7 linked regions of the Homo sapiens genome follow. The protein of the gene in region 1 purifies or fractionates together with the protein of each later gene. This does not show direct contact. Each region holds a gene or a part of one and is shown in the gene's direction. Other genes may lie near its edges.

Region 1 (4,060 bases):
CGTTCTTCCTTGCACTTACCTATTTAGAAAGTTTTAGGCTATTAGCAAATCGGCTATCAGTTTAAGAGTGTGAGGTCCCGCTCCAGCCAATGGATGCAGGACATAGCAGTGAGGACGACCCAAATGCGTAAGGGATAAATATGTTTGCTTTTCCTTTGTTCAGGTGTGCTCTCGACATCGTTCCATCTGCGATTGAGCACCCTTTCTGCAGAAAGTAAAGATTGCCTTGCTGGAGATCTTTTGTCTCCGTGCTGACTTTTCTTCGTGGCACCGATTATCTATTTCTAACAATTTTGGTATTTCTAACATTCTGAACAATCTTGGGCTAGTTGTCTCTTCTGGGCCTGTTTCCCCATCCGTCACATGATAAACTTCATTGGTTTAAAAACCCCAGCGAACATTTATTGAGTTACTATTACCTTCCTGCCCTCCCCAACCCCAACCCCAGGGAGCAGTTACAACCTCAGCCGCTGAGCGCACTCGCCGGGTGTTAAGAAGCACCAAAGACAGGGAGGCTTGATTGATTTTGCTTTGGGAGTAGAGGGTCAGAAGATTCACAGGAAAATGGCATTTGAGCAAGGATGATTCACTGGAGCTAGCTTTTAAATACTGGCGAGGCTTTTATGTTGCAGTCCCTTACAAAGTTGAGCATTCGCAGGGACTGCACTCCGAAATAAGCCCGCTTCCCCTTTTCATTCGCTAATGATCCAGGGAGCTGCTGGTTCCGCATGCGGCAGGTTGTGCCTTTTCCTAATCAGGGTTCTGCATCGCCTCGAACCCGCAGGCCGTGGCGGGTTCTCCTGAGGAAGCAGGGACTGGGGTGCAGGGTGAAGCTGCTCGTGCCGGCCAGCGCCTGTGAGCAAAACTCAAACGGAGGAGCAGGAGGGGTCGAGCTGGAGCGTGGCAGGGTTGACCCTGCCTTTTAGAAGGGCACAATTTGAAGGGTACCCAGGGGCCGGAAGCCGGGGACCTAAGGCCCGCCCCGTTCCAGCTGCTGGGAGGGCTCCCGCCCCAGGGAGTTAGTTTTGCAGAGACTGGGTCTGCAGCGCTCCACCGGGGGCCGGCGACAGACGCCACAAAACAGCTGCAGGAACGGTGGCTCGCTCCAGGCACCCAGGGCCCGGGAAAGAGGCGCGGGTAGCACGCGCGGGTCACGTGGGCGATGCGGGCGTGCGCCCCTGCACCCGCGGGAGGGGGATGGGGAAAAGGGGCGGGGCCGGCGCTTGACCTCCCGTGAAGCCTAGCGCGGGGAAGGACCGGAACTCCGGGCGGGCGGCTTGTTGATAATATGGCGGCTGGAGCTGCCTGGGCATCCCGAGGAGGCGGTGGGGCCCACTCCCGGAAGAAGGGTCCCTTTTCGCGCTAGTGCAGCGGCCCCTCTGGACCCGGAAGTCCGGGCCGGTTGCTGAATGAGGGGAGCCGGGCCCTCCCCGCGCCAGTCCCCCCGCACCCTCCGTCCCGACCCGGGCCCCGCCATGTCCTTCTTCCGGCGGAAAGGTAGCTGAGGGGGCGCCGGCGGGGAGTCAGGCCGGGCCTCAGGGGCGGCGGTGGGGCAGGTGGGCCTGCGAGGGCTTTCCCCAAGGCGGCAGCAAGGCCTTCAGCGAGCCTCGACCTCGGCGCAGATGCCCCCTGAGTGCCTTGCTCTGCTCCGGGACTCTTCTGGGAGGGAGAAGGTGGCCTTCTTGCGCGAGGTCAGAGGAGTATTGTCGCGCTGGTTCAGAAGCGATTGCTAAAGCCCATAGAAGTTCCTGCCTGTTTGGTTAAGAACAGTTCTTAGGTGGGGGTTAGTTTTTTTGTGTTTCTTTGAGGACCGTGGATCAAGATCAAGGAAATCTCTTTAGAACCTTATTATGGAAGTCTGAAGTTTCCAAATGTTGAGGGTTTTATGTCTAAAAGCAACACGTGAAAAAATTGTTTTCTTCACCCAGTGCTGTCTTCCAATTTCCTCTTTGGGGGGAGGGGTAGTTACTGCTGTTACTAAAATAAAATTACTTATTGCTAAAGTTCCCCAACAGGAAGACCACTACTTTTGATGACTTTGGCAAGTTTGCTAACTACTGGAACCCTAACTTACAAACGAACTACTTACATTTTTGATTTCCAGTTGTATTACCTGCCCAATGTTTACGTAGAAACAGCTTAATTTTGATTCTGGGTAACGTTGTTGCACTTCATTAAAAATACATATCCGAAGTGAGCAAGTATGGGTCTGTGGACAGCAGTGATTTTTCCTGTCAATTCCTGTTGCTTCAGATAAAATGTACCAGACAGAGGCCGGGCGCGGTGGCTCACGCCTGTAATCCCAGCACTTTGGGAGGCTTGGCGGGTGGATCACCTGAGATCGGGAGTTCAAGACCAGCCTGACCAACATGGAGAAACCCCGTGTCTACTAAAAATACAAAATTAGCCAGGGTGGTGGCGCATGCCTGTAATGCCAGCTACTTGGGAGGCTGAAGCAGGAGAATCGCTTGAACCTGGGAGGCGGAGGTTGCGGTGAGCCGAGATAGCACCATTGCACTCCAGCCTGGGCAAAAAGAGCGAAACTCCGTCTCAAAAAAAAAGTACCAGACAGAAATGGGTTTTGTTTTCTTTTTTTGTTTTGAGACGGAGTTTCGCTCTTGTTGCCCAGGCTCGAGTGCAATGGCGCGATCTCAGTCTCGGCTCACTGCAACCTCTGTCTCCCAGGTTTAATCGATTCTCCTGCCTCAGCCTCCCAAGTAGCTGGGATTACCCATGCCCCACCATGCCCGGCTAATTTTTGTATTTTTAGTAGAAACGGGGCTTCACCATGTTAGGCTGGTCTTGAACCCCTGACCTCAAGTGGGCCTCCCACCTCGGCCTCCCAAAGTGCCAGGATTACAGGCATGAGCCACCGCGGCCAGCCAGAAATGGGTTTTGGAAAAAGCACTAAACAAAATCGAACTTGGTTTCATATGACAGCTCTGCTGCTAACTGTAACAGGGGCAGACCAGTTAACCTACTTTTCTGTCTTCTGTCAGCTGAGAATTAGATGATTCCCAAAGGCCCATTGAACTCTGAATGACTTTAAATACTTCTTCTTAAGTGGGTACACGGTTTTGGTAACTGATGCCAGGTGATGAATGCATGAAAGTGCTTAATGAATGAAACCGGTAAAATAGTAGGAGGAAGCTTTATTGGTAAGGCAGGGGTATACCTAATAGCTCTCTAATTTATTGGTATTGAAGTGGTTAACTTTTGTTTTTTTAAGGGGGGAAAACATTCTAAGAATAATGAGGCAAACTGCATATTGCACAAGAGACTGTTGTCTCTATTCAACAAATACCTTTTGAGTGTCCAGAGTCTGCCAGGTGCTGTGCTAGGCCCTCACGATTGAGTAGTGAACCAGAGAATGTCCCTGCACCCATGGAGCTTATTGTCTACTGGGGTAGACAGATAATAAATAAGCAAACAAATCTTCTCTCTTCTCCCTTTCGCTCCATGTAAGTGTGTGTGTATAGGTGTATACTTACAAGTTGAGTAAAGTGTTATGAAAGATTAAGAGGAGAAATGCATTTTGGTTAGATGTTAGAGGACTCAGCAGGTGACCTTGAAACTTAGAGCTGAAGGATCAGTAGGAGGTAACTAGAGAGGCCAGGGAATCGCATGTTCAAAGGCCAGGAGGCAAGAAAGAGCATGGTGCCCTTCAAGAGAGGAAAGAAGGCTACTGTGACTGGAGCATAGATGTAGGCAAGTGTTGGGTGATTGAGAGCTCTACGGGCCATGGTTAGGTTTTATTCCTAATGCCGAGATGCCAAACATGGTGGTTCATATCTGTAATCCCAGTATTTTAGGAGGCCGAGGCAGGAATATAGCTTGAACCCAGGAGTTCAAGACCAGCCTGAGCAACATGAGACCTGTACAAAACATTTAAAAAATTGCTGGGTATGATGGTGCACACCTGTGGTCCCAGCTACTCAGGAGGCTGAGGCAGAAGGATCACTTGAGCCTAGGAGGTGGAGGCTACAATGAGCCATATTTGAGTCACTACACTCCAGCCTGGATGACAAAGTGAGACCATGTGTCAAACAAAATACAGAAA
Region 2 (3,500 bases), on another chromosome or scaffold:
AACCAGCTCTTTTTCATTTTTAAGCATCACCATTGCCAAAGATGAAATCCCCTTTGATTTTTGAAATAGATTTTCTACTTTAGAACAGTTTTGTACTTCAGAATTATGGTGAAGATAGTATGGAGAGTTCCCATTTACCTCACATCCAGTCTCCCCTATTGTTAACTTTTTACATTAGTGTGGTATATTTGTTACAATTAATGAACCAATACACTACATTTTATTCAGATTTCCTTAGTTTTTCTGTGGTCTCCTTTTTTTCCAGGATTCTTTTCAGGATATCACATTATATTTATAGTTATGTCTCTAGACTCCTCTTGGGTGTGGTGTGATAGGAGAATCTTAAAATTTCCTTGGTTTTGATGACCTCAAAAGTATTGAGGAGTACTGGTGAGGTATTTTATAGAATGTCATTTCATTAGGATTTGCATGATGTTTTTTTCTCATCAGACTAGGGGAATGTATTTTGCGGAGGAGAACCACAGAGGTAAAGTGCCATCTTTGATTACATCATATCAAGGGTAAATACTTATGACTTGTCACTGTTGGTGTTAACCTTGATTATCTGGCTTGAGCTAGTGTTTGTCAGGTTTCTCCACTGTAAAGTTACTGCTTTTCCTTCTTTTTTTGTACTCTACTTTTTGGAAGGAAAATTACTGTCACAGCCCATAAAGACTAGAGAATTATGCTCCCCTGTCCTTGAGGACTATCTGCATAAATTATTTGGATTTGGAATTCTTTTGCATGGAAGATCTGTCTCTTCTCCTCTTGTTTATTTGTTTTTTAAATCACTTACTTATAGGACAGTGGGATTATGAATATTCATTTTATATTTTGGCTTGTAATCCAATACTACTTTATTTATTTTGCTCAAATTATTTCAGCTTTGGCCATTGGGAGCTCTTTCAGTTGACTCCTAGATCCCTTTGACATACCCCCATCATTAGGAGCAGGAGAGAGTTCTCTGTTCATTACTTTGATCATTTTCTTACCAGTACTACAAGATACTCCAGACTCATCTTGTGTGTATGTTTTGTGTGTATTTTTTTTTTTTTGAGACAGGGTCTCACTTTGGCGCCTAGGTTGAAGTGCAGTGGTGCAATCTTGGCTCACTGCAACCTCAACCTCCCAGGCTCAAGCAGTCCTTCCACCTCAGCCTCCTGAGTAGCTGAGACTAGGCACATGCTACCACACCTGGATAATTTTTGTATTTTTTTGGAGAGATAGGCTTTTGCCATGTTGCCCAGGCTGGTCTTGAACTCCTGGCTCAAGCACTTCACCTGCCTTGGCCCAAAGTGCTGGGATTACAAGCGTGAGCTGCTGTGCCCAGCCTCATCTTGTATATTTTCTGTCTCAGTCTTAGAGTTGTTTCTCCAAGGAGCCTTGGTTCACTTTATTGGAGAATAGTCTTAGAAACCAAGATATGGCTGCTAGGCTTGCTCATTGCTACTGGATGGTGTTTAGTTTTTAGCTTGAAGTGAAAGTCCTTTTGCTGTTAGTCATACCCCCATACCTTTATGGATGTGAACCACTATTATTTGTCTTTCCTGCCCTGAGAAGTAACCCCTGATAACCAGATACTGTTTTGTATACTTTCCACAAATTAATTTTTATCATTTAATCCTCAAAGCTTCCTTGTAAGGTGAGTACTATTATTATCTTCTTTTGATAGTATCCAGATGGCAGACTATAACAGATAATGCAAGTTATATTATAGAACAGAACTTCAAGCAGGTACAGGACTGCAGGTGAAATCTTGATAATCTGTGCTGGTGGGAGAGTTAAAAGCAAGAAGACATAGGGACCTCCTAAAGGAGAAATGTTGGCTGAGCACTAGGAAAAGTAGCATTTAAGGAGAGAACAGAAAGCCCTGAAAATATGCTGCTTCTGAACCATTCCAGTTTGATAGCATTGTTTGCTTTCTGTTGAAGCTCTCTGGCACAGCAGTCGGTTATTTTCCAAATCCAGTTTCACAGCTTCTTGTATTGTTGACTCTAAGTTTTCTATGGCACAGTTGGTCTGTCCTCTCTAAAGGCATAAGCTGTGACAGTTCTCTTCCTCAGAAATCTTTGTGATCAATATAAGCATAAAAAGAGTCTGGAATCATAAACTCCATCTGTTAACAATGGTTCTCTCTGTGGAGTAGGATTGGGTTGGGCTCTAATTCTTACTTTGGCGATAACTGCATATTTTTTAAACTAATGAACATATAGTACTCTTGAACTGTTAAAGCAAAGTTGGTAAGAGGCCTGCAGAATGTTACTGTTTTTTCTTGAGAGACACTTGTCCTTATATTTGTTCTCTCTTGAATTCCTTGATAAATATTTGTTGAATGAATGGTTGTGTTTGTCATGTCACAGATGTGCCAATTGTTTTGACTGTCCTGGCTGCATGCACACCCTCTCTACTCGGGCCACGAGCATCTCCACACAGCTTCCAGATGACCCAGCCAAGACCACCATGAAGAAAGCCTATTACCTGGCATGTGGATTTTGTCGCTGGACGTCTAGAGATGTGGGCATGGCAGACAAATCTGTAGGTGAGTGAGATGGACTTCAATATGAAATTTTGTACAATTGACAGTGCTATAATTGCCCATAGATTATTATTTCTGTAACCCGTTGGGGCGATAGGAGCTAAATTCAGAATATTTTGTCATTAACTCTTCTGTGTTCCCATATGTTCACATTTGTAGACCTTAGTGTTTTATCTGAGATGGGATAATATTTAGTTTTCTTAGACTTGATAAAATAGCTTTTATAAATCTGGTACTTTCTTGGAATCAAAATATTAATGCTCTTCATGAAAAATAAACATTCATGTTAAGACATCATGGATAAAACTAAAAGATAAGGCCGGGCACGGTGGCTCACGCCTGTAATCCCAGCACTTTGGGAGGTTGAGGCGGGCAGATCACAAGGTCAGGAGATCGAGACCATCCTGGCTAACACAGTGAAACCCCGTCTCTACTAAAAAATACAAAAATTAGCTGGGCGTGGTGGGGGCACCTGTAGTCCCAGCTACTCGGGAGGCTGAGGCAGGAGAATGGCGTGAACCTGGGAGGCAGAGCTTGCGGTGAGCCGAGATCGGGCCTCTGCACTCCAGCCTGGGTGACAGAGCAAGACTCTGTCTCAAAAAAAAAAAAAATCTTTAAAGATAAAAATGACAAACTAAGAAAAATAGTTGGGTCTTATATAACAGGCTAAAGATGAATACTCAGAAATGAGGAACGCTTATAAGTCAATAAGAAAAAGACTTAGTAGAAAAACAGGCAAAGGATATGAGCAGCAATTCTCATAGTAGAAATAAAAATGGTCAATGAATATGCAAAAAGATGTATTCGACTTCCCTAGTAGTCATGTAAATGCAAATTAAAGCTTCCTTCTATTTGGTACAACATGTTTAATCTGGTTGTATCAAGTGTTGGCTAGAACATAGGAGAATAGTTCTCTCATACACTATGGTAGTCTATCTTGGAGACCAATTTTAAAACATTTATT
Region 3 (3,500 bases), on another chromosome or scaffold:
GGTGTAAGCCACTGCGCCTGGCCTCTCCTCCCCATTTTATAGATTGAGGAGTTGGCTTGTCCGATGGCAGAGCTGGGGCTACAACCTAGCATACTTGCTCCCAGGCTAGTCCTCTTGGTTAATAAGCAGCATTCCTTATCATTTGTGCCTTACTATTTGGAAAGCAGGGTCCCACTATTGAGAACTGATGGAGCCCGGACTGACCCCCAGTTTTGTGCTGCTTTTACTGTGTTGTGGCCTCCCAGTGCCTTTTCTTAGTGTATCTGGTTGATTTTGTCTAACGCCATTCTGGTTCATCCACAAAGTTAAATCCCCAGACATTTCTTGTGGGTGGCTCAGAACTTTACTGAATGTAGGTTAAACCGCAGATTTGTGTCAGGCTCTGTGAGACTTGTAGGATCATTCAGCCACAGGAGAATATTTTCTGTGCCGTTATCCACAGACATTCATCAGGAGCCCTGTGTGAGCCCAACCTATTGCTGGGAACCAGGGAAGCTCTCTTCAGGATGGCTGAGCACCATCCCAGCCCTAGAGAACCAGGAGACTTTTCTGAGAGATGTGGTCCACATGCCGAAGCTGGGGAGTGATCCAAAATGGTCTGGGGTTGAATGCAGAAATGAGTAGATGTGAATGAGCTTCAGCATCAGGGATTAATGCTGTGGGAGAAATGAAGGTAGCCTACATCTGTGGTTTGCTCTTGGTTAGGCACTGATTCCTGGAGTCTGCCTGAGACTAGGACTTACCCGTGGTCCACAGCACGGTATCCCATCCTGACTTTCTGTTAATGGTATGACTTAAAGAGGTTATTGCACCTATGGGATGGCTTAACCGGAGTGATTCTGGCCTCTTTTGGTAGGGTAACTAAAGCCCGTAGAGTTAGCTGCAGGACCACAGTACCCTGTTGAATTCATCCTCTCCCCCTCCCTTGCCAGACTGAAGAAGCTTTGTAAGAACTAAGGCAGAGAGGTTCTTTGGGAAGAGAAATTGGAGAATTTAGGGTCATGGTATCTCAGATCCTAACCCTGTTCTCCAGTATGGCCTTCTTGGCTGGCTCAGCAGGCTTCTGTTGAACTCAGCAAGCTGCCTGTGCCCAGCCCTTCATCACTGTAGTGAGGATCCTGCTCACATCTCTCAAGGGAAAAGGGACCAGAAAAGTGATAGCTGGGGAGCTTGCGAGTGTCTTGACCATCTGAATTTGTCTTGACAATAGAAATGAAGACAGAGATGAAGCAAGGAGCACCCACCAGCTTCCTCCCGCCTGAAGCTTCTCAACTCAAGCCAGACAGGCAGCAATTCCAGAGTCGAAAGAGGCCTTATGAAGAAAACCGGGGACGGGGGTACTTTGAGCACCGAGAGGATAGGAGGTGGGTGTATGAGGCAGCAGTCACCCTTGCTCTGGTAGGTTTCTATATCCATAGCCTCGTGCTTGCTGGGGACATTTGCACTAACCTAGAGGGGCTGAGTAAAGATTCCCTCTGCTTTCACACTCTTCCTGTCCCTTCCCGTACTTGCTACCAGATTCAGCTTTCCTAAACTTTTGGTCCTTCCCCCAGTTCCTCCCTTCTTACCTGCAGGGTAACTTCTAAATATCTTAGACTTTCACGCGTGAGATGCCAGCCTGCCTGTTCTGTCCTTTGCCTTACTGCCCCTGCAGTCAGCTGCTTGATACCCGTAATGAAAGAAATATCTGTTTCCTAACACTACTCCCAAATACACATCCTCTTCCCATTCATCCACTCATTCAGTCAGTTCTCACAGTGCTGTCACGAAGTGCCCACTCTTGGGCTGGACACTAGCAACATACAGATGGACAGTGGGTTTTGCCTTCTGTTGTTCCAGTGTGGGGACTCAGACACATACACTAGTAAGCCACAACCTCTGAGGTGAGTAGTCAGGATGCAGGTGAGTTTCAGGAGTTCAGAAGAGGGAGCAGCCTCTGCTTTGGTCATTTCCCTTCCCTAACAAGCCCTTCCCTCCTTTCCCTCCAGACCAAGTCCTTCCCTTCCCTCCTTCCTTCCTTCAGTTCCTGTCTGAAGCCTTTTGCAATTATGAAAACTAGGAATGGCCACTGTACTCATCTGGACTAGTCATCTGACATTCTATTTCCTATCTGGCGGAGTCCACCTTCTAACTAGCTTGTTACTGTCTGAGACAGGGCCTGGATCTCACAGGCTATGATTTAAGTTAGGACATGGATCCCACCTCATATGGGGTTCTTCCACTGCCTCCCACAGAGCAGAAGCCTGGAAGCTACTTACTGATGGAGAGCAAAGGAAGAACACTCGCTCTGATCCTGGGCTGGCAGGGAAAGTTTCCTAGAATGGACTTAACATGTGATGAGCACAGCTCATCCATGTTAGCCCTGGCCTGGCGAGGCCAGAGGGGCCCTCCACCAGAGGGAAGCCTGCTGCTGGGAGAGTCAGCAGCCAAATGGGCATGGGCTCCCCATCTGTGCATGCAGTGCACTGCGACCACCCAGACTGTCCAGGCAGGACCCTGAGTGTTAGATTCTACCTTTCTACCCTTCTTCCTCGTTCCTGTACAGCAGAAACCAACAGTGTTAAGTCCCTTTTTTAGCGTTTTGGTAGGAAAATGAATATCGTTTATAATTTAGGACACTGAAAAAAATGGGTCATCTCAAATTCTTACAGATGTAGGATTTTAAGAAGCCTGGTACATGGATAGATAGTAATTATTGGGATTTATATAGGCTCTTGCACATTCCCCTTCCTGGCCAGCACCCTTTTGGGATACCACAGCCTCCAAACAGTAACAGAGATCAGTGTGGAAGTGGTTGTCAACATGCAGAGGGTATGGATCAGAATCTTTGGGTGTAAAAAAAGAGTGAAAAAATTCCCTAAATGATTCTGATGCCCCCCTTCAGCAGAGCATGCCTTCTTCAATCCCTGTCTCCACCGTAGGAGTTGACGGTCATTGCTCTCCTTGCAAGGATGTAGGGTTTCAGAGTTCTTTTGCCCACCTCTGTGGAAGGAAATGGAGATTCAGGAAGCAGTCTGGAGGCCACTCATAGATTACAGCAGAACATTCATTTTCTTTCCTTTGTGCTCATCCATTGTTCTTGTATGACTTAACCCCTGTTTCTAATACAGGGGCCGCTCTCCTCAGCCTCCTGCTGAAGAGGATGAAGATGACTTTGATGATACCCTTGTTGCTATTGACACCTGTAAGTCTTTGGAGTGTGCATCTAATTCTGCCTTACAGTCAGTATGGGGAAATTGTGGTCTTGACCTTCACCAGAATCCCTGCTGGGCACCGTCCAAAGACATTGTTAGTCCACATGTGAGACACGGCTTAGCTCTGGAGCAAGAGTACTGGTTTGGAGGCAAAAGACCTACTCCCAACTCTAGCAGTGGGACCCTGGGCAAGTCATTCTACTTCTCTGAGCTTCCCTTCAGGAAGGAGTAAATCTGCTGTACTAACCTCAGAGGATTTTCAGGGAGACTCCTCAGTGGATATAGGAGCAATCTGGAAAACCCTGA
Region 4 (4,065 bases), on another chromosome or scaffold:
CCTTGGTCTCTGCTATCTACCAGATGGAAAAGAACGTTGTAGTACCTAAGAAAATTAGGCCTTATCACCAAGAAGAAAGGGGGAATGCATGATGCAGAAGGGACCAGCCATCTCAATCAGATACTACACAGTCTAAATTCAAACATTTACAATATAATTAAATTGCATCAGCCCCAGTCACATCTTAGCCTTAGGAACTTCGATCATTGACTTGCAATCCCAGAAAGTCTGTTTTGAGGTCCTAGGCCACAGGAAGAACCAATTTGTTTTATAGACATCTTACAGAGACAGCATTCACAGTTTATCTAGAGTCTGGCCTCAGAGAATATGTACTCCACTGGCAGCAGGAGAAACAAATACACAGGAAAATACAGTGTAGCACAGAACAGGAGCTGAGGGTGAATGGAGATGCTCAGAAACACCTGCACTAAAAATTTGCTGAAAAAGGTAAAACGTGTCAAGCAGCACTGCCTCTGGAAGCCAGAAAAATTACATTTTTTGATAACAGATCCTAAGCCTGGATGCTGGAGGTGCTTAAAAATGTGCATTGTGGGCCGGGTGCAGTGGCTTAAGCCTGTAATCCTAGCACTTTGGGATCTGAGGAGGGAGGATCACTTGAGCTCAGGAGTTTGAGACCAGCCTGGCCAATATGGCAAAACCCTGTCTCTACTAAAAATACAAAAAGTAGCCGGGCATGGGGCGAGCACCTGTAATCCCAGTTATTCAGGAGCTGAGGCAGGAAAATCACTTGAACCTGGGAGGCGAAGGTTGCAGTGAGCCAAGATCCTGCAACTGCACTCCAACCTGGGTGACAGAGTGAAACTCCGTTTCAAAAAAAAAGTGCATTGTGTCTGGTTTTCTTTCCATTCATACGTTTATTTGACTCTGTAGTAAAATCTCCTCCTCCTCCATGTACCCATATTCATGCAAGCAAATGTTAGCAAACTGCCACAGTAGCATTTTAATTAGTGCTCATCTTTCTCTCTTCACCACATTAAAATCTTTTCCCATTGTGTTCTGCTGATATTTCTATTATGATAAAAGACTTAAGACAAGTGACTATATAGAAATACGTATATACACACAAGAATGAAAGAGATAAACAGTAAGGGAGGTAGGGCAGGAATTTTTCTTCAACGTGTACAATTCAATGTACTTTCAGTTTTCATTTCAGCCTTCCTCAGTGGTTTCTGCCCAGCAACTGATGAGAAACATCACCTCTGAGCCAATCAAAAAACTTATTCTTCCAAAGAGAGATTGTTATTATTCCTCACGATGACCCGACAGTCTCTGCTTTCTTTTTCCTTTCTTCCAGAAGGAGATTTAACCATAGTAGAAAGAATGGAGAACTATTAACTGCCTTTCTTCTGTGGGCTGTGATTTTCAGAGGGGAATGCTAAGAGGTGAGTGGGGGAAGTCGATTAGAGCCTGGTTCACAATGCCTGGGAGGACAGGGGCTGAATCGCTGAGAGTGGTGAGTGGGCATGCAGGGAGAGTACTCACCCAGAGAAAGGGGTGTGTGCCTGAGGGGGTGCGCACGCACACATGTGGACACATGGAAAGGGGAGAAGTAGTGCAAAGAATAAAGACCTGCAGAGTTTGGGATTTGGTGAAGAAATAGTCTAATTGCATGTTCTTAAGAACGTATTGTAGTCAGAAAAGGGCAAACAATCTTTAAAATCTGTTCTGGACAACTCAAGGCATCTATTCTAAGAGATTCTAAAAAGAGGTGTCCTTTATAGATTCATATGTAAATTTGTTCATTACAGAAGTATTAAAAATGTAGAAAAACCTGAACCAGCATACATATACAACAGGCGGGGGATAGACAAACAATGCATGGTTCAATCATAAAAGAGATTTCCATGCAGCCTTTAGGAATCGTGTTTTTAATGAAGGGCAATTATTTATAATTTTAGCAATGTTAGATCCATACATTAAACCTTGTTTTAAAATCTTTTAGGAACAGTATGTGTTTTTCCTTTTATTCATCATTTCCCCCAAACCTAACGAATGCTATCCAATGGATACAATCTATTTCATTGTATGAATATACAATTTTTTTGTTTGTTTTGAGATGCAGTCTTGCTCTATCACCCAGGCTGGAGTGCAGTGGCATGTTCTCGGCTTACTGCAGCCTCTGCTTCCTGGGTTCCAGTGATTCTCCTGCCTCAGTCTCCTGGGTAGCTGAGATTACAGGTGCACGCCACCACACCCAGCTAGTTTTTGTATTTTTAGTAGATTCGGAGTTTCGCCATATTGTCTAGGCTGGTCTCAAACTCCTGACCTCAGGTGATCTGCCCACCTCAGCCTCCCAAAGAGCTGGGATTACAGGCGTGAGCCACCACACCCAGCCTTTAAAATTATTTTTAAACACTTCCCTAGTTTGGACTATTTCTCTTTTCTGCATTTGGCTATTGTAGATTTTACTGTATTGAGCAGCCTAAAACATAAATTTTTGTCTTAGTTCCTGATTTTCTTTTTTCTGCAACACTAATTCCTACAAGTGGAACATTTGGGTCAAAGCACACACCTTTTTTTTTTCTTTTAATAGCCATTCCTTAGCAAAGCATATAACTTTTTTTAAGGCCCTTTATATATATATGGTCAAAATACTTCCAGAAATATTTACCTTTTCACTACCAAAGTATATGACTACTACTATAGATATTTTATTTTATTTATTGATTGATTTGTAGAGATGGGGTTTCATTATGTTGACCAGGCTGGTCTTGAATTCCTGGGCTCCAGGGATCCTCCCATCTCAACTTCCCAAATTGCAAGGATTACAGGCATGAACCACTACTTAAACTTGTATTCCTTTATGCTTTTTTTCATTTGCAATATTGACTATAATCAGGAAAAAAAATATATCCTTTATGAAGAAGAAAAACTTATGTCTCATTCTAAGGACAGCAGAGAAATTGTTAACTCAGGGAAAATGATAATAAAAATGATACCCCCTCTATAGCAACATAAAGAGCAGTTTCGAGGAGCAAAAGATGTGGTGAAATGCATTGTTTACTCTGGGTGGGTGCAAGATCCAGGCAGGGGTGAAGCATGGCCGGCTGCACAGATCTCTGTTCTCTTGTTTCCTTTACATCCCTCCCCACCTCCCTCTGCAGATCTTGTTCTCAGAGGCCATTCCCAGACCCACAGCAAGAGGGATTATGGCTGCAGGCCTCATGCTCCTTTGTTTTGGAAGAAACTGTTGAGGAGTTAGTATTTACTGAGCAGCTAATATGTTCCCGTCACTATTGTAACTCATAATAATTATTGTTAAGTAATACACGAAAAGTTTTAAATTTAAAGCATTCCAATATTTTAAAAGTAAAGGGAACAAAAGGCCAAGTGTCCCTTCACTCACTAACCTCTGATCTTCAGATTAGCATGCGTCTTTTTTGAGTTTTTCAGGCATTTACATAAATAGTTATGCAGAAATGGATAGCTTTGCTTCTGTTCTTCAATTGAATCTTTAGTATAGTTGTGCAAGGTGTTTTTTGATCACTTAGTGTGTCTCCGTTATCTAGGTTCATGACAACAAATCAACTCTTTTTACCTGCTGCATTGAATTCCCTCCGAGGGATGAGCCGTCATTCCTCTAAGCAGTCTCCTGATGGGTGGCTGGTTCAGTTGGTTACCATTTTTATACTTTAAAAATAGTGCTGCAGTGTCATTCTCACAGAGGCTTCTGTCTGCACCCATGCAAGTACTTTGCTCGACTTGACATCAGGAAGTGGAACTGCTGGGCCAACTGTGCAATTCTAAATTTCACACTTCATGATATTGTATAAGTAAATAAAGTTGCAATGGTTTTGTCCCATGTCTGAGACCAAAGAGCTTGTGAATCTTAGAGCCTTTACTTATTGCTTACCCTCTTTGTGTCCCTAACCCTTATATCATGGGCCTGGCCCCTTGTGGGTGCTTGGTAAATATTTGTTGAATGACTTTATGAAGGGAAGAAAGAAAAGGTAAGTAAGGCCTGGTCTTATTTGCAGCTCTGTGATCACTAGCCTTGGATTAAATGTGGTGGGTTCAGCCCCTGACTGACTTCAGGTCCCCCAC
Region 5 (4,003 bases), on another chromosome or scaffold:
CCCAAAGGACCCCAACCTCCGTGCTGGGGCCACGGGGCCTGGACAGCCAACCTCCTTCCGCTCTGGTCCCACAGAGGCCGGGGAGTGGGCCCAAAGAGCACCAGCATTCCACCTGGTGTGTGCGGCCCCCGCGGCCTCGACAATTGGGGATCCGGGCCCCCGAGCACCCCTTGCACAGGGGAGGGGAGCCCTAGGCCTGGCTCCTGGAGGGGAGCGTGATAGTCCGGTGGACCCCATACCCTGGAGAGAATGGAAACCCCCAACCCACGACCGGTTTCCCTGATGGAGCCTGTCTGGTTGGGTGCAGTGTGTGAGGAATATACAGCTGGAACCATCAGGCCCGGGCTGGCTGTTGGGAGGAGTGGGGCGTCCCTGGGACTGCGGGGTCCTGAGCTGAATGCCAGCAGCACTGGTGTGGCTGGAGCGGCCACCTTGCCCCTCCTTGGAAGGCGGCTTCCAGGCTGGGCCAGGGTAGGAGGAGTCCAGGGTCCTTTAGGCAGGCCGGCAGGGGGAAGGGCCCAGAGCTCCAGCTCCTGGCTCCCGGCCCAAGTTGTTTCTAAATTTGTTCCCCAACCCCCACAGGGACCCTGAGCCGCACGTGGTTTTTTCCGTGATAGAACTTCCGTCTGTGTGTGCTGGCCTGTCCTGGGCAGGGGGCTCCAGGCTGGGGACGGAGGAAGGGGGAAAGGAAAGACAATGAGCCCACTTTGGGGGGCCCCCGATTGGGGTCAGGAGGGGAATGAAAAAGCGGGGAGAGGAGTAATAAGAGAGGGATTGGGGGTATGCAGCTCGGCAGAGGACCCTGCCCGCCCCCTGTGCTGCTGCCTTGCTCCCGCCTTGCTTACACAGGGCCTGGAGCCCCTCCCCCCAGCTGTAAGCCCTGTGTGTGGGGTGACAGGTGGAAGGGATAACCTGGGGGAGGTGGGGGCCCTGGAGGACAGGCTGAGGTGCAGGAGCCCAGGGTGGGGGCACAGCATGCAGCAGGGGCCCTCGGCCTCACCAGGTGTCCTGAGCCTGACCAAGCCAGGAGGGCTCTGAGCGCTAGAGAACTGAAGCGGGAATGTGACCTCCGGCCAGGGGATCTGGGCAAGCCGGCCAGGCCTCCCCCCTTTGGCGCCTCCGTCCAGCCCAAGTCCCGCCTGGGCCGCACCCCCTGACTCACTTCCTTTGCATAGAAGCGGAAACCTCCCCAGAGCTTCCTCTACTCCGGCCGGCCGCTCCCTGGGGACCCACAGGTGTCGCTGCCCCTCCAGGCCGAAGCTGGCCCAGGAGGCCCCTGGCCCACCCCCTCGCCCTGGGAGGCGCATTTCCTGCTTGGAGTCTCAGGCCCCAGCGTCTGGCACAGGCAGGGGCCTGCGGAGCTGAGGGCAGTGGACCAGCTGCAGGTAGGGGGTGGGTTGGGGCCCAGGGCCCAGTTCCTGCCAGTCAGTGGCTCTCTTGCTCCGACCGGCCTCTTCTTTCTGTCCATCTTTTCGTTTCACCTCCACTAGTCTCCGGGGGGCTCCCTGCACTGCTCAGCTCGTTCACTGGAGGGGTGTTGGGAGGACCCCAGTTTTGGAGTCGGGGCTGGGAGGCCTGGGTTGAGCCTGGGGACGGGGCCCGGGCCTATTCTCAAAATCATAAGTTCCAGCCAGACCCCCGCCAAGTGTTCTGGAGCGTGTGGGGGCGTCTCTGAACTCCTGGGCGCTCAGGCCTCTGCTTCCCGCGGCCCCTCCTTGGGAGACGGCCCAGTCCAGTGGGAGCCGCGGGCGGGGGCAGGGTCCGGGGGTGACTGTTCACCCCAGTGGGCGCCTGGGCGGCCACTGACTCCTTCGACGACTCCTCCAGGAAGCCGGGGCGGCCACCAGATAAGCCTCTACCCCGCCACTTCCTCAAGGCCCGCGGCCGTTTATGGGAAGACCCGAGAGATTTGCATCGGGGCCCTGCGGAGGGGCGGAGGGGCGGAGGGGCGGAGGGGTCGCTTGCCGGTCTGAGGGGCGAGGCCGCGACCAGGCCCCTGGCCCTGGGGCAGCCCGGGCCGCACCCCACGGGACTCCCAGGGGGTAAGATCACTCCGGGGACCGGTTCCGGCGGCCCGCGGGAAAGGGCAGTGGCGGGAGTCCAGAGACCCTCCCCGTCTTCCCGTTGCAGGGAGGGCGACCTGTATGCGGAGCGCCGTTCCTGCGACATGGACCGCGGCCAGCCCAGCCTGGAGCCTGCTGCCGCGGCCCCCCGAGCCTCGGGCCGGTGCGTGATCGCGCCCGTGCGCGCTGTGCTCCGCCTGCGCCGCCGGGTGTGTGTCCTACGCAAACGGCGCCTCCTGCAGCCGGGTGGGGGGCCCGACGTCGGGACCGGGGCGCCCAGGCCGGGCTGCAGCCCCCGGGCACCGCGCGCGGACCTGGACCAGCCAAAGTTCTTCACCTTCGACAGCCCCGCGGAGCTACCCTCCAGGACGCCACGCAAGAAGCGCCGGCGCAGCCGCCTGGTGCTTTACCCGGAGACCTCGCGCAAGTATCGGCCGCGCGTGGAGCACAGGAGCCGCGCGCAGCGCTGCCTTCTGCTGCTAGTCGCCATCGTGGGCTTCCAAGTTCTCAACGCTATCGAGAACCTGGACGATAACGCGCAGCGCTATGACCTCGACGGGCTGGAGAAAGCGCTGCAGCGCGCGGTGTTCGGCCAGCCCGCTGCCGTATCGCGCATCGTGGCGCTGATGCGGGACTACCTGGCCACGCATGTGCACAGTCGTCCGCTCCTCCTGGCGCTGCACGGGCCCAGTGGCGTGGGCAAGAGCCACGTGGGCCGCCTGCTGGCGCGCCACTTCCGCTCGGTGCTGGAGGACAGCGCGCTCGTGCTGCAATACCATGCGCGGCACCACTGCCCCGAGGCGCGCGCCGCACAGGACTGCCGCGAGGAGCTGGCGCGGCGCGTGGCCGACGTGGTGGCGCGGGCCGAAGCGGAGGAGAAGACCCCACTCTTGGTGCTGGACGACGTGGAGCTCATGCCGCGGCCGCTGCTGGACGAGCTGCACGGCTTCCTGCAGCCGCAGCGCTCCCACCACTTCCACAACGCCATCTACGTGCTCCTCAGTGGCGCGGGTGGCGCCGAGGTCACGCGCTTCGTGCTGCAGAACGCGTCCCGCGCGCTGCCCCTGCGCCCCGACGGCTTCCGCAGTGCCGAGGCCGCAGCGGCGCAGGCGGAAGAAGACCTGCGCGCCAGCCTGCTGGCTGTGCTGTCCCGGGAGCATCCGCTGTGGCAGGCCGCGGCCATCGTGCCGTTTCTGCTGCTGGACAAGCGGGATGTGGTCAGCTGCTTCCGGGACGAGATGGCGGGTGAGGGCTTCTTTCCTGACCAGGCCCGCGCGGAGAACCTGGCCGCGCAGCTCAGCTTCTACCGCGTGGCTGGCCGCGAGTTTGCCGTCACCGGCTGCAAGCAGGTGGTGGCCACGGTGAACCTCCTGTAGTGGAGGCGCAGGACGGGACGTTTGGGTTGATGGCGGCAGTAGGAGGGCGACCAGGGACCTTGTGGGCTGGTGCAGGCCCCTGAGGTTTCTAGTGAATTTGTGGCTGCCCGGCTGGTGGGTGCGGATCAGCTTGGAGCTCTGCTTCCAGGTCCACACCCGCCTCAGAGTCCGGAGTCTGTCCCTGGGGGCGGCAGGACAGCAGCCACCTCCCTCCCAAACTTGCCCATTGCCCTGCTGGGCGTCCCAGGCATGGTCTGGTGCGTTCTCCCTGTGGCCCCAAGAGGTGGGTTCCCATGGTACAAGGATGATCTCAGGGCCAACAATTCCCGGGGTCACACAGCTGGGACGTGACCCCGCCTCTTGGGGGTGGTCGCGTGTTGCTCAGTGCTGAAGTGGGGTTCTCATTCCGGCCCCCCTGGAGATGACCCCGGAGGAGGCCACAGCCAACCATGACAGTGCTGGGGCTCTGGCTGCCTTCTCCACCCACCCCACCCCTCACTCAGGTCGTGTTTTCAGGAGCTCAAGGCTGGAGTGTCTTGACAGTAAGGGGAGGGGAGCGGAGGC
Region 6 (3,500 bases), on another chromosome or scaffold:
AGGTGCATCAGGTGCTCTGCATCCCCAGCTGGATGGCAAAATTCTTTTCTTGGACACTTGAACCCATCTTCTCTTCTTCAGAACCCACCAGCGAAGCCAGAATTGGGATGGGAGCCACGCTGGACATCCAGAGACAGCAGAGAATGGAGCTGCTGGACCGGCAGCTGATGTTCTCTCAGTTTGCACAAGGGAGGCGACAGAGACAGCAGCAGGTAAAAGTGATAATAATCACTAAAAATTTAGAAATTCTCAGTGGCCCAAGCAAATCTTTCCTCTGTGATTGCATGTGAGATAGAGACTACATTTTATTCCAGTGCCTTGCAAGTGGATTTTGACATTTCCAAAGAGATTGTAGGTCTCTGTTAGTGGCCATTCTTAGTTTTTTAAAAAGGTAAAAAATAAATTGCAGCTGAAAGATTGGTCAAACTGGACATTCTTGTTCCACCTATATTAGATAAGCATGACTTCTTAGAGAAACACCAACCTAGTTAACAAGATGTGCTATTTATCTGTTTTTATAATCTTGTAAAAGCCACAGTGTCTTCCTGTTAAAATGCTAATCATATGCTATGGAGTGAAGAACAAATGTAAAATTTCTTGATTTTCCTTGGTTGAAATGAAGAGAATATGAAGGCAAGAAGATTTTCAGTGGAACAACCAAGGAGTAGATAAAAAAAAATGCTGTGTTTTCTCAACCTTGCTATCAATAATCAGAAATTATTGCACATTTGTCTACAAATTCTGCATCCAAACAATCTGATACTACATTTGTCTTCCATGGGCAGTGAGAGAAGGAGGGTTAGTGCACATCAGGCTAAAACCTCAGGCCTGATCTTTCTTGGACACTTCTGTGAGCCAGCCCACAGGGCTCCCCATTTTTCGCCTCCACCTTCTTTACCCCTGGGGTAGTTGTAAACCGTACAGTTACCTCTGCCATCTCTCTGTCTTCCACTAGCATTGGATGCAAGAAGTAGGTCTGCAGATCTCACGATGGTTTGGAGAAGTGAAATCAGGTTTGAGGTCCTTAGAGTCCCATTGGAGATGCAGGTCCCAGAGTTTATATCAGGGGGGGGGAGGAAGGGGGCAGCTTATTAGGGGCAGAGTCTACAAGAGAAATAGAGAAGCAAAAGTTGTTTCTTAAAGATGTGCTTGAATTTGAGTGACTCTGGAACATGCCATAAAGATGCCCATGGTGTATTTAAAGCTGGAGGATGGACATCTCTGTCTTGGAAATGTGGAAGCTACATATATATATAGGTGATGGAGTCACCTCTGTAGGGATGAGAGCTGAGAGCCGAAAGCAAAGAAGTAGTAAGTTCTGTAAGAGAAGAGCTACATCCAAGATGAACACAGGCTACAGATGAAGCCTCGTATTTAGCAGGAGGTAAATCCTTCAAGGAAACTGAGAGAAGAGCGAAAGGTATGAGAAATCAGAATGATCAAGGTCAGAAAAACTGAGTAGTGATTGAGTATAAAGGTAGAGGCACAGAGCTTATGAGGGAGAGAAAGAAGTAGGGGATGGTTCTGATGTTTCTGGCCTAGATAATCTTAGATAGATGACTGATAGTTCCATTTCACCAATATCAAAAGAGCAGATTTGGGGGAAATATGTTGTCTGAGATACCTTTGGAATCCTGGGAGGAGATTCTCCATTGGAGAGCTTTGAATTTGTCCTCATAAGCAAACCAGAGAAGTTGCATTTCTCAGATTGGCCTCCCCAGGAAGATTTTTATACAAAGAGTTTATGAGAGAACACCGTCAGCATCAGTATCTATGGGGGCGGGCTGGCGAAGGCAGCAAGATGGGACAGAGGGAGCAGCTGCAGTTCCAGCAAAAGCCTCGCTGGTCTTATGGAGCACAGTGAAGCTGGGAGAGCCCTTCTGAGTTGTCCCAAAATGGGGACCAGTCCTGTTGGGTAAGTCCCATGCGTACGACCTCTTTGAACCTTAATTACCTCCTTAAAGTTCCTACCTTTAAATACAGTCACATCGTAGGGTTAGGGCTTCAGCGTGTGAATTTGGGGCAGGGGCAAGGGGTGGGAGACAGTGTGTTCCATAACACTGCAGAGTGGAAAGGGCCCAGCATAGTCTCGGCGCTGAGTGACTGTTCTGCTTGCAGACGGTAGTTATCAGGCACACACAGTCTCTGTGGATGCCAGGTTGGATGCTCCATAGTGGCAGGAGATAGGTCGGCCTAGGTGAGGGGGACCCACACATTCCTCTGTGCTACCACCATGGCCATCCATTCGTGTGCCAGCGCTGGGTTATCTGGTGATGGAGCCACAGTCATTCTGTCCACCTTCCATTTGGTGCCTTTTCTGTGGTGGATGCCCGTGGTGGGCACGACCTGCAAGACACTTGATGCTGTTCCTTTAGCTGGATCCTCCTTGTTCCCTCCCTTCCAGTCCCCTGACCGACCAACCAGGTGATCTGCCATGCCCAGCAGATCCACACGTGTAATTGCCTCAGGCCACTTCTCTTCACACAGAGTTGATGACCAAATGTGCTGCCCAGGCTCTGCCCATAGGGGGTTCCCCTGATCGCTGTCTTTCAAGATTGAGCCATCATGCAGCCGTTTCTTTCAGCTGCCACTCATGTCCTGAGCCAGCCTGTCCATTTGGCTGTTTTCCCCTCTGTCACTTGGTCATGAGGGGCCCACCAGCTGTGGTAGTCGGTGTTAGCTGGGAAGAGGCTGTGGTGCAGCAGAGGTGGCTGCCAGGGTGGTCTGGCATGCCTGCTTCTGCAGCTCACCCATGCCCTGCAGCCCCACCTATGCTGAGCCCAGATGCCCGTGTCCATCTGATGATGGGTTTCTGTCGGCCCACCTGGCTTGGTAACTTGGTGGGTCTCCACTGCTGACCACATGCTCACTTTGTGGCCTACAGACAGGCACTTCATGGTGCAGCAGCAGTTTATGCAAGTGGGATTCTTGGCTGTTTGCGCACGCCCTCGCTCCAGGATTCTACGGACCCCCATTGTGGTTCTCCTTTCCTGCCTTGCTGTAAACTCCGCACGGTGTCTTTCCCCCCAGATACTTGGAACATCACGGGATCTGCCAGGTTGTACCCAGGCCTCAGGGAATGAGACAGACCCAAACCCCTGCCCTGCTGGAGCGTGCATTCCCACCAGGCGCCTGTGAAGTGGCACAGGCCTTTATGGCTGTCTACACTGCTGTCAGACTCCTCCACTTTCATAGGATGGTCTCACTAACAGATCTGAAGTCCAGAGCAGGACACCAGCCCCTGGGCTCTTGCTGGGCTTTTACGTTGAGTGGTCTGCTGGGCAGCACAGACCAGACTCTTGATTTTTTCCTAAGCTTCCTAAGTTCTCTTCTAGGGTCCGCACATGGGTACACCCAAACCTGAGCACTTAGCCTCCTGCTGAACTTCTTCACTCAGCTGTGTCTCAGTTTTCTTCACATAAGTATGATAAATCACCACGTAGAGAACTCTTTTGTTAAACCACCACTGGAAATTATCTGCCGTATTTGTGTGCATGCAC
Region 7 (3,500 bases), on another chromosome or scaffold:
TGTAAGTTCAAAAAAGCCATTCATGGAAGATCTGATAGCTGATATAAGGTGACTGAAATCTGTAAGACAGGTGTTCACCCTTACCTTTGCCTTCAAAACCATCATTATATGGTTTACTGTATCAAGCTAGAAAAGGTAATTGTATCAAATGTTATTTAATGAATTTTTTTTCCTTAACCAAAGGAGCAACCCTATTGACTGAAAAAGTCATTATAAAATCTCTCGTTTCCCTAATTTAGTGCATGTTTTATGAGATTAGTGAACTTTTAGTACTTTTAGTAAATAATACTTAACCAACTTTTTTGTTTTCACTTGGAGAATTTGTATGGAAAATGAGAACTGCCCTCTGTAGGCAGGTCTTAAAGACCAGTGTTTTATTCATATGACTCAGTCCTATGTGCTTTTTGTATGTGTGATTGTTAACAAGATTTTGGGAAAACAAATTATTTGAAATGTAGTAGACTTACAGCTTTGGTGCAGCATAGATCTTGAAAAATATGTTTATGAACTAGAAGAAGAAAGGTGGACATTTTGAATATTAACATCTTAAAAATACATTGGGGTCATTCTCCCCCCTCTTACCCCCCTGGTCCATTGCTATATAAGGCAGCATCATTTTGCAGTGACCAATTTTTTTTTTTTAATTCATGGTGACTCTGCTTTTAAAGAGAACTTGCTTGAGATATTTTTTAATATTTCTCGTTATGCTTAGGCACAATAATTTTTTAAAAAGTAATAGGCCAGGCCAGGCACGGCGGCTCACGCCTGTAATCCCAGCACTTTGGGAGGCCGAGGCAGGCGGATCACCTGAGGTCGGGAGTTCAAGACCAGCCTGACCAAAATGGAGAAATCCCATCTCAACTAAAAATATATAATTAGCTGGGCATGGTGGTGCATGCCTGTATCCCAGCTACTCGGGAGGCTGAGGCAAGAGAATGGCCTCAACCTGGGAGGCGGAGGTTGCGGTGAGCTGAGATCGCGCCATTGTATTCCAGCCTGGGCAACAAGAGTGAAACTCCGTCTCAAAAAATAATAATTAATTAATTAATAGGCCAGGGACCAGGCAGTGGCTCATGCCTGTAATCCCAGCACTTTAGGAGGTCGAGGTGAGCAGATAACTTGAGGCCAGGAGTTCAAGACCAGGCTGGTCAACATGGTGAAACCCCATCTCTACTAAAAAAATATATAAAAATTAGGCTGGGTGCAGTGGCTCACGCCTGTAATCCCAGCACTTTGGGAGGCCGAGGCGGGTGGATCACGAGGTCAGAAGTTCGAGACCATCCTGACTAGCATGGTGAAACCCCGTCTGTACTAAAAATACAAAAAATCAGCCGGGCATGGTGGCAGGCACCTGTAGTCCCAGCTACTCAGGAGGCTGAGGCAGGAGACTGGCGTGAACCTGGGAGGCTGAGCTTGCAGTGAGCCGAGATCGCACTGCTGCACTCCAGCCTGGGCGACAGGGCGAGACTCCGTCTCAAAAAAATATATAAATATAAATATAAATATATATATATATATATATAAATTATCCGGACGTGGTGGCGTGCGTCTGTAATCCTAGCTACTCAGGAGGCTGAGGCATGAGAGTCCCCTTGAACCTGGGAAGTGGAGGTTGCAGTAAGCCAAGATTGCACCACTGCACCCCAGCCTAGGTGGCAGAGTGAGACTCCATCTCAAAAATAACAACAAAAAATTAATAGGCTGGGCATGGTGGCTCATGCCTATAATCCCAGCATTTTGGGAGGCCGAGGCGGGCAGATGGAATGAGCTCAGGAGTTTGAGACCAGCCTGGGCAACATGGTGAAACCCTATCTCTTCAAAAAATATAAAATTAGCTGGGTGTGGTGGTGTGTGCCTGTAGTCCTAACTCCTCAGGAGGCTGAGGTGGGAGGATTGGATCTCTTGAGCCCAGGAGGTGGAGGTTGCAGTGAGCTGAGACGGTGGTACTGCACTCCAGCCTGGGCAACAGAGAAAGACCCTGTCTCAGAAAAAAAAAATTATATATATGTGTGTGTGTGTGTGTGTGTGTATATATATATATATATATATATATATATATATATACACACATATATACACACACAAACACATTAACTGAAGTCACAATAATTTTTTCATGTGCTGTTTCTCATTGTTCAGATGGCTCTGCAACCTGGATTGTATTAGGTATAAATCCTATGCAAATAGACTATTTTATTGCCATTTCATTGTCTAAGGAAAATGTCATTGGCCTATAAAAGTTGAGGCCTAAAAGACATAGTTTAAAAATGTTTTATCTCTTATGGAGCTGAAAACATTTGGTATCACCAATATTATGATTAAAAGGTTGTTTAACTTTTTTCTTATTAGGATCCACCTCAGAAAAAGATGGAATGCACCATACTGTCACCAAGCACAGAGGTATAATTACACTCTACAGGCACCAGAAAGCTGCCTTTGCTATCACAAGTAGGCGAGGTCCTACCCCCAAAGCAGTAAAAGCTCAAATAGCAGATCTTCCTGCAGGAAGTAGTGGAAATATTCTTGTTGAACTTGATGAGGTAAGTAGTTTTTTTTTTTTTTTAATGCTTTGATTTTTAAACAAATATCTGACTTACAAATTGAGAACTAAGTTGTATTAGCTTCCAGAGTTGTTTTTAAGTAAAGAAATGGGATTAATTTTTGGAGTACTCCAACAATATGATCCAGAAAAACGGCAAACTTCAAATATCTCATGTCTCTTGTAATTTTTACCAGCTTAACTTTATCTTCCTAGGCAAGACAGCCTTGTAAACTAATTCAGTCCTATAGCAGTGACTGTAGAGAAGGTGCTCAATAATAGTGAAAGCTAACTTTTCTCTGTCCTTTCAATGCACAAATGTCATATAATTGCAACCCACCTGACTTTTTTAGTCAATTTGATATTTATTAAATGCTTAGTGTGAGGTAGGGTTCTAAATTTATTTTTCATATGAACAGCCAGTTATCCCACTATTGAATCCTTTCCTCTCTGATTTATAATGGCACCTCTGTTAATGGCTTCATATGTGTGAGGGTCTATTCAGGCTTTCCATTATCTCCCATTGGTCCACCTGTTACACCGTACAGTCTTAACAAGCAGTGGTTTTTAAAAAGTGTTTTGTTTTGAAAATCTGACAGTCACATTATTAGCAATAGAATGAATGCTCTAGTTAGTTCTTTGGAATGCAAGGCATAGGAATGTACCTCAGTTCAGCAGTAAACCATCAATACTAAAAGACATGTTTCTGTAAAATATAAACCCCTTTTAAGTTTCTTTTTAAAATCAACAGCTTATCTATATTTCCCTTAAAACATTCTGTAAAGTCTTTTTCATTGACAATATTTCCCTATAATAATTGTAATAAAAATTTTACTGTGATTTTGATATTTATATCTCTAGTTTGCATAGTTATTCCTCCAATTAAACATAATTTTAAAAATATAAATATCTTTTTGGGGGGACAGATTTATGGACCGTAATTACTGCTGAATAAGAATTA

What was found.
Region 2: the proteins of AKAP10 (region 1) and DCTN4 fractionate together in Homo sapiens (co-fractionation; one large-scale study listed by BioGRID). This does not show direct contact.
Region 3: the proteins of AKAP10 (region 1) and HNRNPUL1 purify together in Homo sapiens (tandem affinity purification; one large-scale study listed by IntAct). This does not show direct contact.
Region 4: the proteins of AKAP10 (region 1) and BTN3A1 fractionate together in Homo sapiens (co-fractionation; one large-scale study listed by BioGRID). This does not show direct contact.
Region 5: the proteins of AKAP10 (region 1) and TOR4A purify together in Homo sapiens (tandem affinity purification; one large-scale study listed by IntAct). This does not show direct contact.
Region 6: the proteins of AKAP10 (region 1) and UBAC2 purify together in Homo sapiens (tandem affinity purification; one large-scale study listed by IntAct). This does not show direct contact.
Region 7: the proteins of AKAP10 (region 1) and BTAF1 purify together in Homo sapiens (tandem affinity purification; one large-scale study listed by IntAct). This does not show direct contact.

The regions. Positions count from the first base shown.
Region 1 is NC_000017.11:19,975,029-19,979,088, reverse strand, and holds the start of AKAP10 (A-kinase anchor protein 10, mitochondrial isoform 1 precursor), read left to right. Parts: upstream 1-1,260; 5' UTR 1,261-1,409; coding exon 1,410-1,497; intron 1,498-4,060. UniProt on the Homo sapiens protein: Differentially targeted protein that binds to type I and II regulatory subunits of protein kinase A and anchors them to the mitochondria or the plasma membrane.
Region 2 is NC_000005.10:150,752,518-150,756,017, reverse strand, and holds part of DCTN4 (dynactin subunit 4), read left to right. Parts: intron 1-463; exon of another isoform or gene 464-487; intron 488-2,360; coding exon 2,361-2,539; intron 2,540-3,500. UniProt on the Homo sapiens protein: Part of the dynactin complex that activates the molecular motor dynein for ultra-processive transport along microtubules.
Region 3 is NC_000019.10:41,270,872-41,274,371, forward strand, and holds part of HNRNPUL1 (heterogeneous nuclear ribonucleoprotein U-like protein 1), read left to right. Parts: intron 1-1,210; coding exon 1,211-1,364; intron 1,365-3,110; coding exon 3,111-3,184; intron 3,185-3,500.
Region 4 is NC_000006.12:26,401,010-26,405,074, forward strand, and holds the start of BTN3A1 (butyrophilin subfamily 3 member A1 isoform a precursor), read left to right. Parts: upstream 1-1,265; 5' UTR 1,266-1,403; intron 1,404-3,125; exon of another isoform or gene 3,126-4,065. UniProt on the Homo sapiens protein: Plays a role in T-cell activation and in the adaptive immune response. Regulates the proliferation of activated T-cells. Regulates the release of cytokines and IFNG by activated T-cells.
Region 5 is NC_000009.12:137,276,523-137,280,525, forward strand, and holds the start of TOR4A (torsin-4A), read left to right. Parts: upstream 1-1,203; 5' UTR 1,204-1,385; intron 1,386-2,130; 5' UTR 2,131-2,167; coding exon 2,168-3,439; 3' UTR 3,440-4,003.
Region 6 is NC_000013.11:99,340,354-99,343,853, forward strand, and holds part of UBAC2 (ubiquitin-associated domain-containing protein 2 isoform 1 precursor), read left to right. Parts: coding exon 1-212; intron 213-3,500. UniProt on the Homo sapiens protein: Restricts trafficking of FAF2 from the endoplasmic reticulum to lipid droplets.
Region 7 is NC_000010.11:91,989,770-91,993,269, forward strand, and holds part of BTAF1 (TATA-binding protein-associated factor 172), read left to right. Parts: intron 1-2,349; coding exon 2,350-2,540; intron 2,541-3,500. UniProt on the Homo sapiens protein: Regulates transcription in association with TATA binding protein (TBP). Removes TBP from the TATA box in an ATP-dependent manner.